Regions from separate parts of the Homo sapiens genome. Here region 2 is linked to region 1. A link means that fine-mapping ties the variant in region 1 to the expression of a gene that starts in the linked region. Tissue or cell type: whole blood. Region 1 holds a variant in brackets; the other region holds the start of a gene. All regions are shown on one strand. Distances are from middle to middle.

The links. PIP is the estimated chance that this variant, and not a neighbour inherited with it, causes the effect.
Region 2: it holds the start of RBL1, and the variant in region 1 is fine-mapped to the expression of RBL1 in whole blood (TOPMed, PIP above 0.99).

The regions. Positions count from the first base shown.
Region 1 is chr20:37,007,738-37,015,840 of GRCh38, forward strand. The region is part of intron 19 of RBL1 (RB transcriptional corepressor like 1); the gene reads right to left. Among named protein-coding and RNA genes, the nearest start is that of SAMHD1, 60 kb to the left of the region's middle. RefSeq lists an enhancer at 4,035-4,976. The variant T/C (reference allele first, on the strand shown) is at 3,846.
Region 2 is chr20:37,091,141-37,099,243 of GRCh38, forward strand. RBL1 (RB transcriptional corepressor like 1) reads right to left here and starts at 4,857. Exons shown (of 22, transcript NM_002895.5): 1 at 4,633-4,857. The coding sequence starts at 4,788. RefSeq lists enhancers at 4,216-4,315, 4,549-5,225, 4,876-5,145, 5,266-5,315 and a silencer at 4,586-4,645.

The DNA of each region.
Region 1 (8,103 bases):
ACGTGCCACCATGCCTGGCTATTTTTTATTTTTAGTAGAGACGGGGTTTTGCCATGTTGCCCAGGATGGTTTCCAACTCCTGGGCTCAAGTGATCCACCAGCCTCAGCCTCTCAAAGTGCTGGGATTACAGGCATGAGCCACCATGCCCAGCCACAAAGCATACTTTAATATACAAGTTGGTGATTTAAATGACCTTTCTACAATATTAAAAAAAACCCACAAATCTTTATGTAGAGAAATTAATATTTTCAGAGAAGGTTCAGCAATCCATCTGTATTACTTATAAGTCAAATTGGAATCTAGAGAAATGCAAACATATGAACTGAAGGTGGTGCTCTTTTCTCTAGATTCCACTTCAGAATGTTTTCACAACCATAGCTGTTGAGCTCACTGTCACTAGTGGCTCTTAGAGGGGTAACAGCCCTGGGCTGGTGTTTAGCTAAGTTCTACAGTATGGGAGGCAGTGGCAAACCTCAGCTTCAGACAACTAAAAGGCCTGCAGATATTCTTCTTGTGTCTTTGAGAAAGGTGGAAAGATTCTAAAAGGTAAAGCATATCCTGAGAGGTTAAGGAAGAAGCAAAATGAATTACATTTATTTCTCTGCAAATACATGGCAGGTGACAGGTGTTCTAAGAGCCTTATTGTACCACATACAACAGGAACCCTGATCAGGAACCAGTGTTCAGGTTTTACTGAGCACCCTCAATTGTAAAATAACAGCTTACCCCAACATAGTTTCCTACTTAATGGTGCAACTCTGGGATAGCTTGTGAAACCAGGCAGAACTTTGTCCTACTATTTTTTGGGGAAGGAAGAGTATTACAGGGTATTACAAACTATCATTTACTTGTATACACAAGAACCATGTGCTAAGAAAACCACTACCAATTAAAAAGAATTTAGCACATATATGAAAAAAGCTCTCATTCTCAATACACTGGCCTACAAACATTGAGAACATGGGTAGAAGCAATGCCTTCACCTTAGGAAAACCAGAAAACACAAACATGGTTCAAAAACCAAACAGCCCCAGGGGATGTCAGTCTTAATTTGGATGTCTTTTTCACTTCTGCTATTTCTAAAGGATCTTGACGAGGGTGGGAGGGGAGGGGAGCTATGTGGTTAAATAAAGTTGAGGAAATGCTGTATATTATATTGGAAATTCAGAAATTCATGTTAGTATAAGGCTCTGAGAAGTACTGCAGTTGGGGAAAAAAAATAACTCTCATGTTCACTTTAATTCCATACTTCCCCAGTTTTTTGTGTATAGTCTCTCTTCCCCCAAAACACTTTTTTTTTTTTTGAGACGGAGTCTTGCTCTGTCACCCAGCCTGGAGTGCAGTGGTGCAATCTCGGCTCACTGCAGTCTCTGCCCGCTGGGATCCAGCGACTCTCCTGCCTCAGCCTCCTGGGTAGCTGGGATTACAGAAGCATGCCACCACGTCTGGCTAATTTTTGTATTTTCAGTAGAGATGGTGTTTCGCCAGCTGGAAAGGCTGGTCTCGAACTCCTGACCTCAGGTGATCTGCCCGCCTTGGCCTCCCAAAGTGCTGGGATTACAGGCGTGAGCCACTGCGCCTGGACCCCCCAAAACACTTATACTACCATTCTGGGAAACACTGTTTCAAAGGATACTGGCTTGTTAACAGCTCTTCTAGGTTATTCTCATTATATGGATCAATTAAAATTATTTTTTTGTTTTGTTTTTATGAAAGGTTCTTGATCCTCTTGCCTCAGTCTCCCGAGTAGCTGGGACTACAGGTGCACGCTGCCACACCGAGCTAATTTTTTTTTACTTTTTGTAGAGACAGGGTCTCCCTATGTTTTCTAGGCTGGTCTCTAACTCCTGGGCTCAAGTGATCCTCCCACCTTGGCCTCTCAAAGTGCTGGGATTACAGACATGAGCGAACACGCCTGGTCTAAAATTATTTAATGTCCTCCTTAGATTAGAAATTTCTTGAGACAGAGACTATAGTGTCTCTATATTTCTGTGTCATTCCAATTCCAGCTGTTAATACTAACATAAGGTAAGGAGCTATACTTTACTTGAATGAACCAAACATTTAAAATTGTGGGAGGCTGGGTGTGGTGAAACCCTGTCTCTATAAAAATTTTTTTAAAAATTAAAGAAATTTAAAAACTAGGTGTGGTGGCATGCACCTTTAGCCCTAGCTACTTGGGAGGCTGAGATGACAGGATCGCTTGAACCCAGGAAATCAAGGTTGCAGTGAGCTATGATTGCCCCATTACATTCCAGCCTGGGCAACAGAGCAAGATCTCATCTCTAAAATTAAAAAAAAACTGAAGAAAAAAAAGACATTTAAAAAAACATACTTGGCCGGGTATGGTGGCTCATGCCTGTAATTCCAGCACTTTGGGAGGCTGAGGTGGGAGGATCACTTGAGCCCAAGAGTTCAAGACCAGTCTGGGCAACACAGTGAGACCCCATCTCGGTCTCCCAAAGTGCTGGGATTACAGGTGTGAGCCACCATGTCCGGCCAGAAATGGGTTTTTACTGATGAAAATAGTGAATGTTTATTAAGTGTGACTAATGCTAAAAAAGCCATACTCATTAATACAATAAATTTGATATTGCTTATAAATAATAGCTATTACTAAGGCCTTACTATGAACAAGCCCTGTATTAAATATTATATATATGCATATATGTATACATAGTTGTGTATTGCATAATGATGGGTTATCTTCTCAGAAATGCATTGTTGAAATGATTTTGTCATGAGAATACTATAGAATATACTTACACAAACCTAGATTGTATGGCCAACTACACACCTAGGCTGGATGGTATAGTATATTGCTCCTAAGGTACAAACCTGTACAGCATGTTACTGTATTGAATACCACAGGCAATTGTATCACAATGGCAAGTATTTGTGCATCTAAATATATCTAAACATAGAAAAGGTACAGTAAAAATACAGCACTATAATCTTATAGGACCACTGTTGTATGTGTGGACCATCACGGACTCAAACATCATTATATGGCACATGACTATGTGTGTGTGTGTGTGTGTGTGTGTGTGTCCACACATACATACATATACATATAATTATCTTTTTTATTTTTAGAGACAAGATCTTGCTCTATCACCCAGGCTGAAGTGCAGTGGTGCAATCATAGTGCACTCCAATCTCAAATTCCTGGATTCAAGTGATCTTCCTGCCTCAGCCTCCCAAGTAGTTGGGACTACAGGTGTGAGCCACCATGCCCAGCTAATTTTTTATTTTCATTTTTTGCAGACAGGGGTCTTGCTGTGTTGCTCATGCTGGTCTTTAATTTCCGGGCTCAAGGGATCCTCCTGCCTCAGCCTTCCAAAGTGCTGGGATTACAGGCATGAGCCACAACACTCAGCCTAAATATAATTCTTTTTAATCCTTAAAACAAGTTTCTAAGGAAGCAATGTAAAGTTTTCAATTAACTACAATACACTTGAGTACAGTGTTATGTTTGTGTTACTTAGGTTAAGCTATAACCTGGGTCTCACAAGTATTCTAATCAAGACTGCCACTCTGGAGCAGTCTGCTAACATGACATTGAAGAATTCACAGCCCATGAGGAGTGAGCTGGTGTTTTAATCAGGAAATTCATTCTCCACTCCAACAGTTTCTGCTAGGCATATCTCAGTCAATGACCAATGCTTTGCTCATTAACATACTCAAGGTCAGAATTTTTTTTTTTTTTTTTTTGAGAAAGAGTCTTGCTCTGTTGCCTAGGCTGGAGTGCAGTGGCACAATCTCAGCTCACTGCAACCTCAGCCCCCAGGGTTCAAGCAATTCTCTTGCCTCAGCCTCCGAAGTGGCAGGGATTACAAGTGCT[T/C]ACCACCATGCCTGGCTAATTTTTGTATTTTTAGTAAAGATGGGGTTTCACCATGTCGGCAAGACTGGTCTCAAACTCCTGACCTCAAGTGATCTGCCCGCCTCGGTCTCCCAAAGTGCTGGGATTACAGGTGTGAGCCACCATGTACAGCCAGAAATGGGTTTTTACTGATGAAAATAATGAATGTTTATTAAGTGTGACTAATGCTAAAAATGAGCTCATGTTCAGGAAATCAAAAGTATTTAAGATAAGCAGATTGGTTAAAATATTTGACTCCCTCTCCCACTCCCTCTCCCCACGGTCTCCCTCTCCCTCTCTTTCCACGGTCTCCCTCTGATGCCGAGCCGAAGCTGGACTGTACTGCTGCCATCTCGGCTCACTGCAACCTCCCTGCCTCAGCCTGCCCAGTGCCTGCGATTGCAGGCGCGCGCTGTCACGCCTGACTGGTTTTCGTATTTTTTTGGTGGAGACGGGGTTTCGCTGTGTTGGCTGGGCCGGTCTCCAGCTCCTAACCGCGAGTGATCCGCCAGCCTCGGCCTGCCGAGGTGCCGGGATTGCAGACGGAGTCTGGTTCACTCAGTGCTCAATGGTGCCCAGGCTGGAGTGCAGTGGCGTGATCTCGGCTCGCTACAACCTCCACCTCCCAGCCGCCTGGCCTTGGCCTCCCAAAGTGCCGAGATTGCAGCCTCTGCCCGGCCGCCACCCCGTCTGGGAAGTGAGGAGCGTCTCTGCCTGGCCGCCCATCGTCTGGGATGTGAGGAGCCCCTCTGCCTGGCTGCCCAGTCTGGAAAATGAGGAGCATCTCTGCCCGGCCGCCATCCCATCTAGGAAGTGAGGAGCGCCTCTTCCCGGCCGCCATCCCATCTACGAAGTGAGGAGCGTCTCTGCCCGGCCGCCCATCGTCTGAGATGTGGGGAGCGCCTCTGCCCCGCCGCCCCGTCTGGGATGTGAGGAGCGCCTCTACCCGGCCGCGACCCCGTCTGGGAGGTGAGGAGCGTCTCTGCCCAGCCGCCCCGTCTGAGAAGTGAGGAGCCCCTCCGCCCAGCAGCCACCCCGTCTGGGAAGTGAGGAGCGTCTCCGCCCGGCAGCCACCCCGTCCGGGAGGGAGGTGGGGGTCAACCCCCGCCAGGCCAGCCGCCCCGTCCGGGAGGGAGGTGGGGGGGTCAGCCCCCCGCCTGGCCAGCCACCCAGTCCGGGAGGGAGGTGGGGGGGTCAGCCCCCTGCCCGGCCAGCCACCCCGTCAGGGAGGTGAGGGGCGCCTCTGCCTGGCCGCCCCTACTGGGAAGTGAGGAGCCCCTCTGCCCGGCCAGCCGCCCCGTCCGGGAGGGAGGTGGGGGGTTCAGCCCCCCCGCCAGCCAGCCGCCCCGTCCGGGAGGGAGGTGGGGGGGTCAGCCCCCCGCCCGGCCAGTCACCCCGTTGGGGAGGTGAGGGGCGCCTCTGCCCTGCTGCCCCTACCGGGAAGTGAGGAGCCCCTCTGCCCGGCCACCACCCCGTCTGGGAGGTGTACCCAACAGCTCATTGAGAACAGGCCATGATGAGAATGGCGGTTTTGTGGAATAGAAAGGGGGGAAAGGTGGGGAAAAGATTTGAGAAATCGGATGGTTGCCGTGTCTGTGTAGAAAGAGGTAGACATGGGAGACTTCTCATTTTGTTCTGTACTAAGAAAAATTATTCTGCCTTGGGATCCTGTTGATCTGTGACCTTACCCCCAACCCTGTGCTCTCTGAAACATGTGCTGTGTCCACTCAGGGTTAAATGGATTAAGGGCGGTGCAAGATGTGCTTTGTTAAACAGATGCTTGAAGGCAGCATGCTCGTTAAAAGTCATCACCACTCCCTAATCTCAAGTACCCCGGGACACAAACACTGCGGAAGGCCGCAGGGTCCTCTGCCTAGGAAAACCAGAGACCTTTGTTCACTTGTTTATCTGCTGACCTTCCCTCCACTATTGTCCTATGACCCTGCCAAATCTCCCTCTGCGAGAAACACCCAAGAATGATCAATAAAAAAAAAAAAAAAAAAAATTTGAGACACTACCCTCAATAGCCATGAAAGGGATGAAAGATCCAGTGAAGTCTCTCAGCTTTACTCTTAGGGATAATAATGTTAAGGCTAAAAGCTCTGAGAAGTCCTGTGTCCAGCCCTGAATTCTGATCCACGGTATTTGCTTGATGGTAGCCTTAAGGTTGACTGAATCCTGCATCTGAAATCTTGGCACCTGTTCTTGAGCAAATCTTTTCTATGGGTGCTGGTCAGACATAGAACTGGGATATATGAACTTACTGCATAGGATATATAAATTGTGTGTGTGCTTTTTAAACAGTAATTATTTTACAACTCATAATGAATTTGTTTATAGAACCAGAACTGTTTTTCCCAAGTTGGTGTTCTTTGGTGTGTCCAAATCTGGGTCATAGCATCTAACCATAGCTCTAAGAACTGGAAGGTGACTTATCTGAATATAGACTTGTCTGACTGTATATCCTCCTACATAACTTTCTCTCTTTTTTTTTTTTTTTTTTGAGACAGGGTCTTGCTCTGTCTGGAGTACAGCGGCAAGATCATGGCTCACTGCAGCCTTGACATCCTGGGCTCAAGCCAACCTCCCAATTCAGCCTCCTGAGTAGCTTGGACTACAGAAGCCCACCACCATGTGTGGCTATTTTAAAAAATTTTTTGTAGCAATAGGCTGTCACTATGTTACCCACAATGGTCTTGAACTCCTGGGTTCAAGCCACCCTCCTGGCTTGGCCTCCCAAAGTGCTGGGATTGTAGATGTAAGCCACTGTGTTCTCTCTTTTTGAGTGCCAGAATTCCTGAGTTCATTATCACTGGATATTCTCCCTGCCCTGTGCCACCACCACTGTACAGGATCTGTAACAATGGTTGTTTGCTTACTTGCTAATAAATATATCTAGTTAATAACCGTATGTAAGGCAGTGTGCGGTGACTCACGCCTGTAATCCCAGCACTTTGGGAGGCCAAGGCAGATGGATCACTTGAACCCAGGAGTTCAAGACTGGCCTTGGCAACATGGTGAAACCCCATCTCTACAAAAAATATAAAAATTAGCCAGGACGTGGCTGAGTCGAGAATCACTCGGGCCTGGGAGGTCAAGGCTGCAGTGAGCTGTGACTGTGCCACTGTACTCCAGCCTGGGTGACAGAGCAAGACATGGTCTCAAAACAAACAAACAAAAGGTCAGGTGCAGTGGCTGACGCCTGTAATCCCAGCACTTTGGGAGGCCAAGGCGGGTGGAATACCTGAGATCAGGAGTTCAAGACCAGCCTGGCCAACATAGCAAAACCCCATCTCTACTAAAAATACAAAAATTAGCTGGGCCTGGTGGCAGGTGCCTGTAATCCCAGCTACTCGGGAGGCTGAGGCAGGAGAATCACTTGAACCTGGGAGGCGGAGGTTGCAGTGAGCCGAGATCGCACCATTGCACTCCAGCCTGGGCAACAAGAGTGAGACTGTATCTCAAAAAAAAAAAAAAAAAAAAGAAAGAAAGAAAGAAATTGTGTAGCAGAATTTGATCTGAAACCTATATATACAGGAAGTGGCAAACTCTCAGTCACCCAAGTTTCTTTGGCAGATACTTATCAAAAAGAAAACAAAACAGAAAACGACATCGTCTATTATCTTTTGCTTACTTCTACTCTCTGGAACTTCACTGCTCTTGTAGCTCAGATACTTGCTAGCAGTTAGTTTCTCATAGAAAAAACACAAAACAGGCAAGTGATCCACAGCTTTCTAGCTAACCTCTGATGTCTGGTTTTGTAGGAACAGAAAAACCACCCTGGATAGGTAAGCAACATGTATAACAAATATAGAAAATGGCTTTTTTTGTTGTTGTTTTTTTTTTTTGAGATGGAGTCTCACTCTGTCGCCCAGGGTAGAGTGCAGTGGCGCGATCTCCGCTCACTGCAAGCTCCACCTCCTGGGCTCATGCCCTTCTCCTACCTCAGCCTCTGGAGCAGCTGGGACTACAGGCGCCCGCCACCACGCCCGGAGAATTTTTTGTATTTTTAGTGGAGACGAGGTTTCACCGTGTTAGCCAGGATGGTCTGGATCTCCTGACCTCATGATCCACCTGCCTCGGCCTCCCAAAGTGCTGGGATTACAGGCGTGAGCCACCGCACCCGGGCTTGTTTGTTTTTTTGAGATAGAGTCTAGCTCTGTCGCCCAGACTGGAGTGCAGTGGCAGGATCTTGGCTCACTGCAACCTCTGCCGCCCAAGTTCAAGTGATTCTCCTGCC
Region 2 (8,103 bases), 83 kb after region 1:
GAGGTCAGGAGTTTGAGAGCAGCCTGGCCAATGTGGCGAAACCCCGTCTCTACTAAAAAATACAAAAATTAGCCAGGTGTGGTGGCGCACGCCTGTAATCCCAGCTACTTGGGAGGCTGAGGAAGGAGAATCACTTGAACCTAGGAGGTGGGGGTTGCAGTGAGCCGAGATCACGCCACTGCACTCCAGCCTGCGCAACGGGAGTGAGACTCCATCTCAAAAAAAAAAACAAGAATTACAGATAAAGGCCAGGCACAGTGGCTCATGCTCGTAACCCCAGCACTTTGGGAGGCTGAGGCAGAGGATTGCTTGAGCTCAGGAGTTCAAGATCAGCCTAGGAAACATAGTGAGACCCCCGTCTGTACAAAAAAGGAAAAAATTAGCCGGGTATGTGGCACGTCTGTAGTTAGAGCTACCTGGGGAACTGAGATGGGAGGATCATTTGAGTCCAGAAGGTTAAGGCTGCAGTGAGCTGTGACTGACCCACTGGACTCCAGCAAGGGTGAAAGAACGAGACTCTATCTCAAAAAAAAAAAAAAAAAGAATTACAGATGTAAATCTGATAGCACAACACAATAGTGTTCTTATACACTGTTCCACAGACTGTCTTTAAGACCAAACCCTAGAAGGATAAAAAGATTGATAAAAAGATTTCTTGCAATAATCTAAAAGGGGTGGGTAGAAATGGGTGGCCATCAATAAACCCAATGTTCCTACCCTGAAGGAATGAGAAGTCTTTTCTCAAAGCACTAAATGAGGCAGGTAAGCTTAAAGATGAATATTTTTACAAGCTTTGATTAATGAATTGCTTGGGAATAGGGTCTGGTCATGGTGGCTTACGCATGTAATTCCAGCACTTTGGGAAGCTGATGTGGGTGGACTGCTTGAGTTCAGGGGTTCGAGACTAGCTTGGGTAACACAGCAAAACCCTATCTCTACAAAATACAAAAAAATTAGCAGGACGTGGTGGTATGCGCCTGTAGTCCCAGCTACTCTGGAGGCTGAGATGGGAGAAGTGCCTGAGGCCCTTTTTTTGTCTCAAAAAAGAAAAAGAGAAAGAGTTGTTTGGGATTAGCATCCAAGTATTATAGAGCCTTTGGATACAGGCTACTAAATGAAAATTCTAGCAAGATGGTGAAAATATAAGTCCTAAAATTATTGTTTCGATTTTTTTAAAGACATTAAAGAATACACTGATTTTTATTTTACTTTTTAAAACAGGGTCTCACTCTGTTGCCCCAGGCTGGAGTGCAGTGGTACAATCAGGGCCACTGCAGTCTTGACTTCCCAGGAATGAGGGCCACTGCAGCCTCGACCTCCCAGGCTCAAGCAATCCCCCCACCTTAGCCTCTGGAGTAGCTGGGACTAAAGGCACATGCCACCACACCCAGCTAATTTTTGTAGAGATGGGGTTTCACCATATTGCCCAAGCTGGTCTCAAACTCCTGGGCTCAAGTGATCCACCTGCCTCAGCCTCCCAAAATGTCGGGATAACAGGTGTGAGCCACCATGCCCAGCCTATTTTATTTTGTGTAGAGATAGGGTCTCACTATGTTGCCCAGGCTGGTCTTGAACTTCTGGGCTCAAGTGATCCTCCTGCCTCAGCCTCCCAAAGTGCTGGGATTATAGGTGTGAGCCACTGTGCCTGGCCTGACTTTCTTTCCTTAAAAAAGTCAACTATTTTATTCCATGAGAATAAAATAGAATACAATTCTATTTGATAAAATCCTATTTCATAAAAATTCTATGAATTCTATGATATCAGAAACCATTTTTTGCATTTCTAAGGCCTACTTGCCAGGCCTTAGAAATACAAAAAATGTTTTCTGATCTCACAGAACTTCACATCTGGAGCTAAGAAGAGGAACAGATACTATCATTTATAATTGGTGAGATATACAAGCTATAAGAAGAACTGAAGATAAAGTGTTGTAGGAGAATATAGTGCAGTGAATAACTGATTTTGACTACAGTTTAGGGAAGGCCTCACAAAAGGAGACAAAATTTGTAAATCAATAAAAATGTAAGCAGGAGTTTGTCAGGTAGACTAGAGAGGGGTAGGGATTGGAGAAAGACTTCTTAGGAAGCATGAGATATATGAAAATGACTACTCCAAATACCTTTAAAAAATTGATTTTAAAAAAAGAGGAAAATAAACACTGGATAGAATAAACACAAAATTTCAGTTCATACATTTGTGCTTTCTAAAGCAAGCATTGGGCTGGGCTCGGTGGCTCATGCTTGTAATCCCAATGCTCTGGGAGGCTGCGGCAGAAAAATCACTTGAGGCCAGTTCAAGACCAGCTTGGGCAACATAGTCAGATACTATCTCCACAAAAAATTGAAAAATTAGCTGAGCACCGTGGTGCATGCCTATAGTCCCAGCTACTGGGGAGGCTGAAGCAGGAACATCACTTGAGCACAGAAGTTTGAGTTTACAGTGAGCTATAATTGCACCACTGCATTCCAGGCCTGGTCAAAAGAGCAAGACCCTGTTTCTTTCCATTTTTTTTTTTTTTTTGAGATGGAGTTACACTCTTGTGCAGGGTGGAGTGCAATGGCGTGATCTTGGCTCACTGCAACCTCTACCTCCTGGTTTCAAGAGATTCTCCTGCCTCAGCCTCCTGAGTAGCTGGGATTACAAGTGCACGTCACCATGCTCAGCTAATTTTATATTTTTAGTAGAGACGGGGTTTCACCATGCTGGCCAGGCTGGTCTTGGACCCCTGACCTAAGGTGATCTGCCCACCTCAGCCTCCCAAAGTGGTGGGATTACAGGTGTGAGCCACCGTGCGCCCGGCCAAGACCCTGTTTCTAAGGAAGAAAAAAAGAAAGAAAAAATAAATAAGTAGAGCAAACATTGAAGATGTCCTATTCAACTCTGCCTAACTAGAGATTTAGCTCTCAACTTTTCCTGGTGTTGGGGGTGAGGGGAAATATTCCAGGCAGAGGGAATGGCATGGATATACCACAAAACTGGGAACAAACTTGTCATATTCAAGAATCTGAAACAGGTGCATGCCTTGACCATAGTTTGACACAGTAAATGCTTATTCAATGACAGATGGTGTGACCTTGGGCAAGAGAGACCAAATCAGACCTAGGATGTCAGAAATGCTTTCTCAGGCTTTCAAAAATCAATCTGTTTTCAATTGAGACGCCATTCATTCTAATCTCCCTTACTTTCTTATTCTTCCCACAGCTCTCCAGTCATGCCACCCACGGATGTGGACCATTGTCCTTTACCCAGTCTATCCAGTTCTGAAGACACTTTTTTCAGGTACTACTCCTTCATATATAGGCACACATACAATCGACACTTTTCCAACTCTATGCCTTTGAACCCAGCAATTATTTCACTGGGTGGTGAGTCAGTGGTGCACCCTGGGAGTGGGTCCAGCGCCCTTGGCACATGAAAGCCTTTGAACATGAGGCCAGTGGTGCTACATGAAATACACTCCATCACAATTCTGTCTACACTGGGCTTATGCTCGTCTGGGTTTCTTTCTCTGTTTTTAGATAGAGTCTTGCTGTCACCCAGGCTGGAGTGCAGTGGTGTGATCTCCACTCACTGCGGCCTATGCCTCCTGGGTTTAAGCAATTCTCCTGCCTCAGCCTCCCGAGTAGCTAGATTACAGGCAGGCGCCACCACACCCAGCTAGTTTTTGTATTTTTTTAGTAGAGATGGGGTTTCGCCGTGTTGCCCAGGTTAGTCTCGAACTCCTGGCCTCAAGTGATCCGCCCGCCTTGGCCTCCCAAAGTGCTGGGATTATAGGCGTGAGCCGCCACGCCCAGCCTGGGTTTCTATATTAGAATAATCCTAGGCAAGACAACCTTCTGAGCCTTGCCATTATCACCTGGAAAGCAGTCTAATACTCATTGCCATGCCATGTTCACAGGGCTGTTGCGAGGATAAAATGCAAGAATGATGGGGAAAAAAATCAAGTAATTATAACTGACATTTGTTTTATTCAGAGCCAGACACTGATGCAAAGCATCAGGACGATGCTCTGACGGAGGAGGAAACGTAGGGCTGAGATCAGCTTCGTGTGCACATTGGCTTTGATCAAACTGCTGCACAGCGACCGGCAGCTCCACCCTGGTGAAGCAGAGGGTGGAGGTTAAACGGCTCAGACCCTGGGTCTGGCTCCATCTCTAACCGTGTGACCTTGGGCCTGTAGCTTAACCCGTCTAGGGCTCCGCTTCCTCTTGCGTGAAATGGGGATCACAGAAGGGGTTCAGACGGAACTGAGGGTCCATTTAAAGCTCTGGGCAGTGATGTCTTGGCATGCAGTTCATTTTCACTTTACCATTATATTTGTTCTTACTGATTTAAGGGCAGCACCATGACTTTTGTGGCGCTTGGCGGGGTAGAGGGAAGTGTGGTCAGGAAGCCTGGGGTCTGAGCGGCGCGGGACCTAGGCCGCTCCTTTCCTGAGCTTCAGTTTCCCGCCTCAAAATGATGGGTGGATTGGCTGAGCTACACCCACCTTTCCCGCCCCTCGGCGCTTGGCTGCGCAGCGACCCTCCTAGGTGGGGAAACTCCCACCACCCCATAGGCCGAGGAAGGGGCGGGGCAGGGGTGGGGCCTGGCGAGGGTAGGGTCCGGCCGCCCCACCTGCTGCCGCTCACCTCTAGGCTGTAGTTGCCTCGGATGGCAGTAAAGTCGTCCAGGGCTTCGGCCGCGCTCCCCTCGTCCAGGTTCAGCTCCTGGCACAGGGCCTGTAGCGCCTCCCCGGCTGCGGCGACCACCGCCGCCCCCTCAGCGTGGGGCTTGTCCTCGAACATCCCTTCAGGCCCCGCGGGCTGCGCGCCACGGCCCCCGACTTCTTTCTCCCTCCCAGGCGCGCTACCCACAACCACCTGCGCCAAAGCGCGCGAAAATCTGCAGCTGCGGGACGTGTTGTCATCCACCGTCTGCCTCCGCTTTTCTCCTCAAAAAAAGTCCGTTTTTCCTCCGGAGCTCCTAGCAGTCCCTCCCCGGAAATGTGATAAGAAGATGTACCTCAGATTCTGAAAGACCTGTCCTTGGCCCTTGGCTGGTCGCGGGGGGCCCAGCCGGCGGGACAGAAAAAGAGCGGAGGGATCCTCAGCCCGCGCGCAGAGCCTGCTGGGAGGTGTAGTCCATCTCTTGGGAGATGAAGCCCGCGGCCTCCCCCTGTCTTCCTGGTTAGGCTCTTGGGTTTTGGGGCAGGGCTGGGCTGCCTACTGCGAGGTGGCCTCGTGCAGCGTAGTGAGATGCCTCCTCTATCCACGGGCCCTGGGTTTGTCACTGTCCCTGGGCGCCAAACATAATCTGAGCTGTACCCCTTGAGTTAGGAGATGGAGGCTGGAAGAGAAAAAAGTAGCCCCTGGACGAAGAGGGGCCTCTTGGGACTCTCCCCAAAGTCCTAGTGCCCAGTGAGTGGTTCGCTAAATGACAGAGGGGAAGGATTGGTGACGGATATTAGAAGACGAATCCTCATCTCATGCTAGTCGCTAAAAGAGGCAGGCAGAGAAGACTGCAGTAAATGAGGCAGGAGAATAGGGTCTGGAGGCAGGGAACCTATGGCTGTTTCACGTGACTTCTTAGAACTAAATTGAAAGGAAAACCCCAACTTTCCACGCCTAAGTAACAAAAGAACCAGAGGCTGTTCCCTTGGACCTTTTCTGCATGGCAGATGGGAAATTGGCTGTCTGCAACAAATCACACTGAGCGCCTTCCAGTCTTTGTTTGCAACTTTGTAACTTCACTCCAGCCTCTGAACGGTTGCTGTCCACAACCAATCAGACTGATGGCGGGAGAGTCTTCCTTTGCATAGAAGTATAATTTTGTTAACTTCACCCTGGCCTCTGATTGGTTGCTTTCTGCAACCACTCAGACTGATTGTGGGCTACCACTTCAGTTACATCAAGAGAGCATAAAGTGGCCAATGGGAAACTTCTAGAGGGTATTTGGACCCCAGAAGATTCTGTGTCTGGGCCCTTGAGCTGCTGCGTGGGTTCGCTTCCCCACTATGGAGTGTACTTTTGTTTTCAATAAATCCCTGTCTTCGTTCTTTTGTTGTTCCATTATTTGCTTTGCCTGTAATCCCAGTACTTTGGGAGGCCGAGGCAGGTGGATCACTTGAGTCCAGGAGTTTGAGACCAGTCAGGCCAACAAGGCAAAACCCCGTCACTACTAAAAATATAAAAATTAGCTGGGCGTGTGGGTGCACTTGTGTAATCCTAACAACCTGGGCAACTGAGACATGAGAATAAAGAATCGCTTGAACCGAGGAGGCAGAGGCTGTAGTAAGCCAAGATTGCACCACTGCACTCCAGTCTGGGTAACAGAGTGAGACTCTGTCTCAAAAACAAACAACTGAGGACACATCTGTCAAACCCAGCCTCACCTGCATGCATTTAAAAAAACCAAAAATCAATATGCCCTTCCTTATATTGGTTTTATTTTTTCTTATTATCCCAGGACATGCCCATTTAACCCAAAATTGAGCTTTTCTGAATAGAAAATGAAGTATGGAAGGCCGGTTGCAGTGGCTCACACCTGTAATCCCAGCACTTTGGGAGGCTGAGGCAGGCGGGTCACCAGATCAGGAGATCGAGATCATCCTGGCCAACATGGTGAAACCCCGTCTCTACTAAAAATACAAAAATTAGCTGGGCATGGTGGCGGGCGCTTGTAATCCCAGCTACTTGGCAGGCTGAGGTAGAAGAATCGCTGGAACCTGGGAGGCGGAGGTTGCAGTAAGCCAAGATCGTGCCACTGCACTCCAGCCTGGTGACAGAGCGAGACTCCGTCTCAAAAAAAAAAAAAAAAAAAAGAAAAAAGAAAATGAAGTATGGGTAGTGAAATAGATTTACTCTGCCCTTCAGTTTTGAGCCAGATACACATGAAGGTTGTTTCTATTTTGATCCCATTGTGTGATAGCCTCTATGATTAGCCTCCCTGTTGTGGTTTAATATTTCAGAGTTCTCCCAAAGCATGTGGTTGGAACCTGATTATGACCTTTAGGGATTCCAAGACTAAAAAGATTATAGTGTGTACCCTTCCAAATGTAATTCAAAATATATGCAATTCTAAATCACAAAATAAGTGTAAGAAAGTACAAGAAAGTTCTAACTAATTTTCCCAAGATGTCTCATTTTGAAATTCTTAAATTTTTTTTTCTTTTTTTGTCCTCCAGCTTTGCTATGCCCTAAGCAGAAAATCAGTCTGCACTTGCCCCTCTCAGGACAAACTGCTTGTCTAACCTTCTATTAAAAAAAAAAAAAAAAAAAAAAAAAGCAGTTGATATTTGTGGGGGAGGGGCAAGACCTGACCTCACCATTCTTTTTTTTTTTTTTTGAGACAGAGTCTCACTCTGTCACCCAGGCTGGAGTGCAGTGGCAAGATCTCAGCTCACTGCAACCTCTCCCTCCTAGGTTCAAGCAATTCTCCTTCCTCAGCCCCCCAAGTACCTGGGACTACAGGCACACGCCACCATGCCCGGCTAACTTTTTTTTTTGCATTTTTAGTAGAGACGGGGTTTCGCCATGATGGCCAGGCTGGTCTTGAACTCCTGACCTCAGGTGATGCACCCGCCTCAGCCTCCCAAAATGCTGGGATTATAGGCGTGAGCCACCATGCCCAGCTGGACCTCACCATTCTTAATGTTCTTTTTCCTTGGAGGAAAAACTAAAGTGGTGATCTTTAAGCTGGTTCTGCACTGTGGAAGTAGTGCATTACAAAGATTAATAAAGCCTCTCTACCCACAGAAGGGGGAAAGGATTTGCATACAATCTTAGAAAAGCAAATGTAAATGGCTTTTAGATGTGAAAAGATGCCCAACTTTCTTTCTTTCTATTTATTTATTTATTTATTTATTGAGACGGAGTCTCACTCTTGTTGCCCAGGCTAGAGTGCAATGGAGAGATCTCGGCTCACTGCAACCTCTGCCTCCTGGGATCAAGCAATTCTCCTGCCTCAGCCTCCCGAGTAGCTGGGACTATAGGCGTGTGCCACAACGCCAGGGTAATTTTTGTACTTTTTAGTAGAGACGGGGTTTCACCATGTTGGCACAATGGTCTCAATCTCTTGACCTCGTGATCCCACCCGCCTCGGCCTCCCAAAGTGCTGGGATT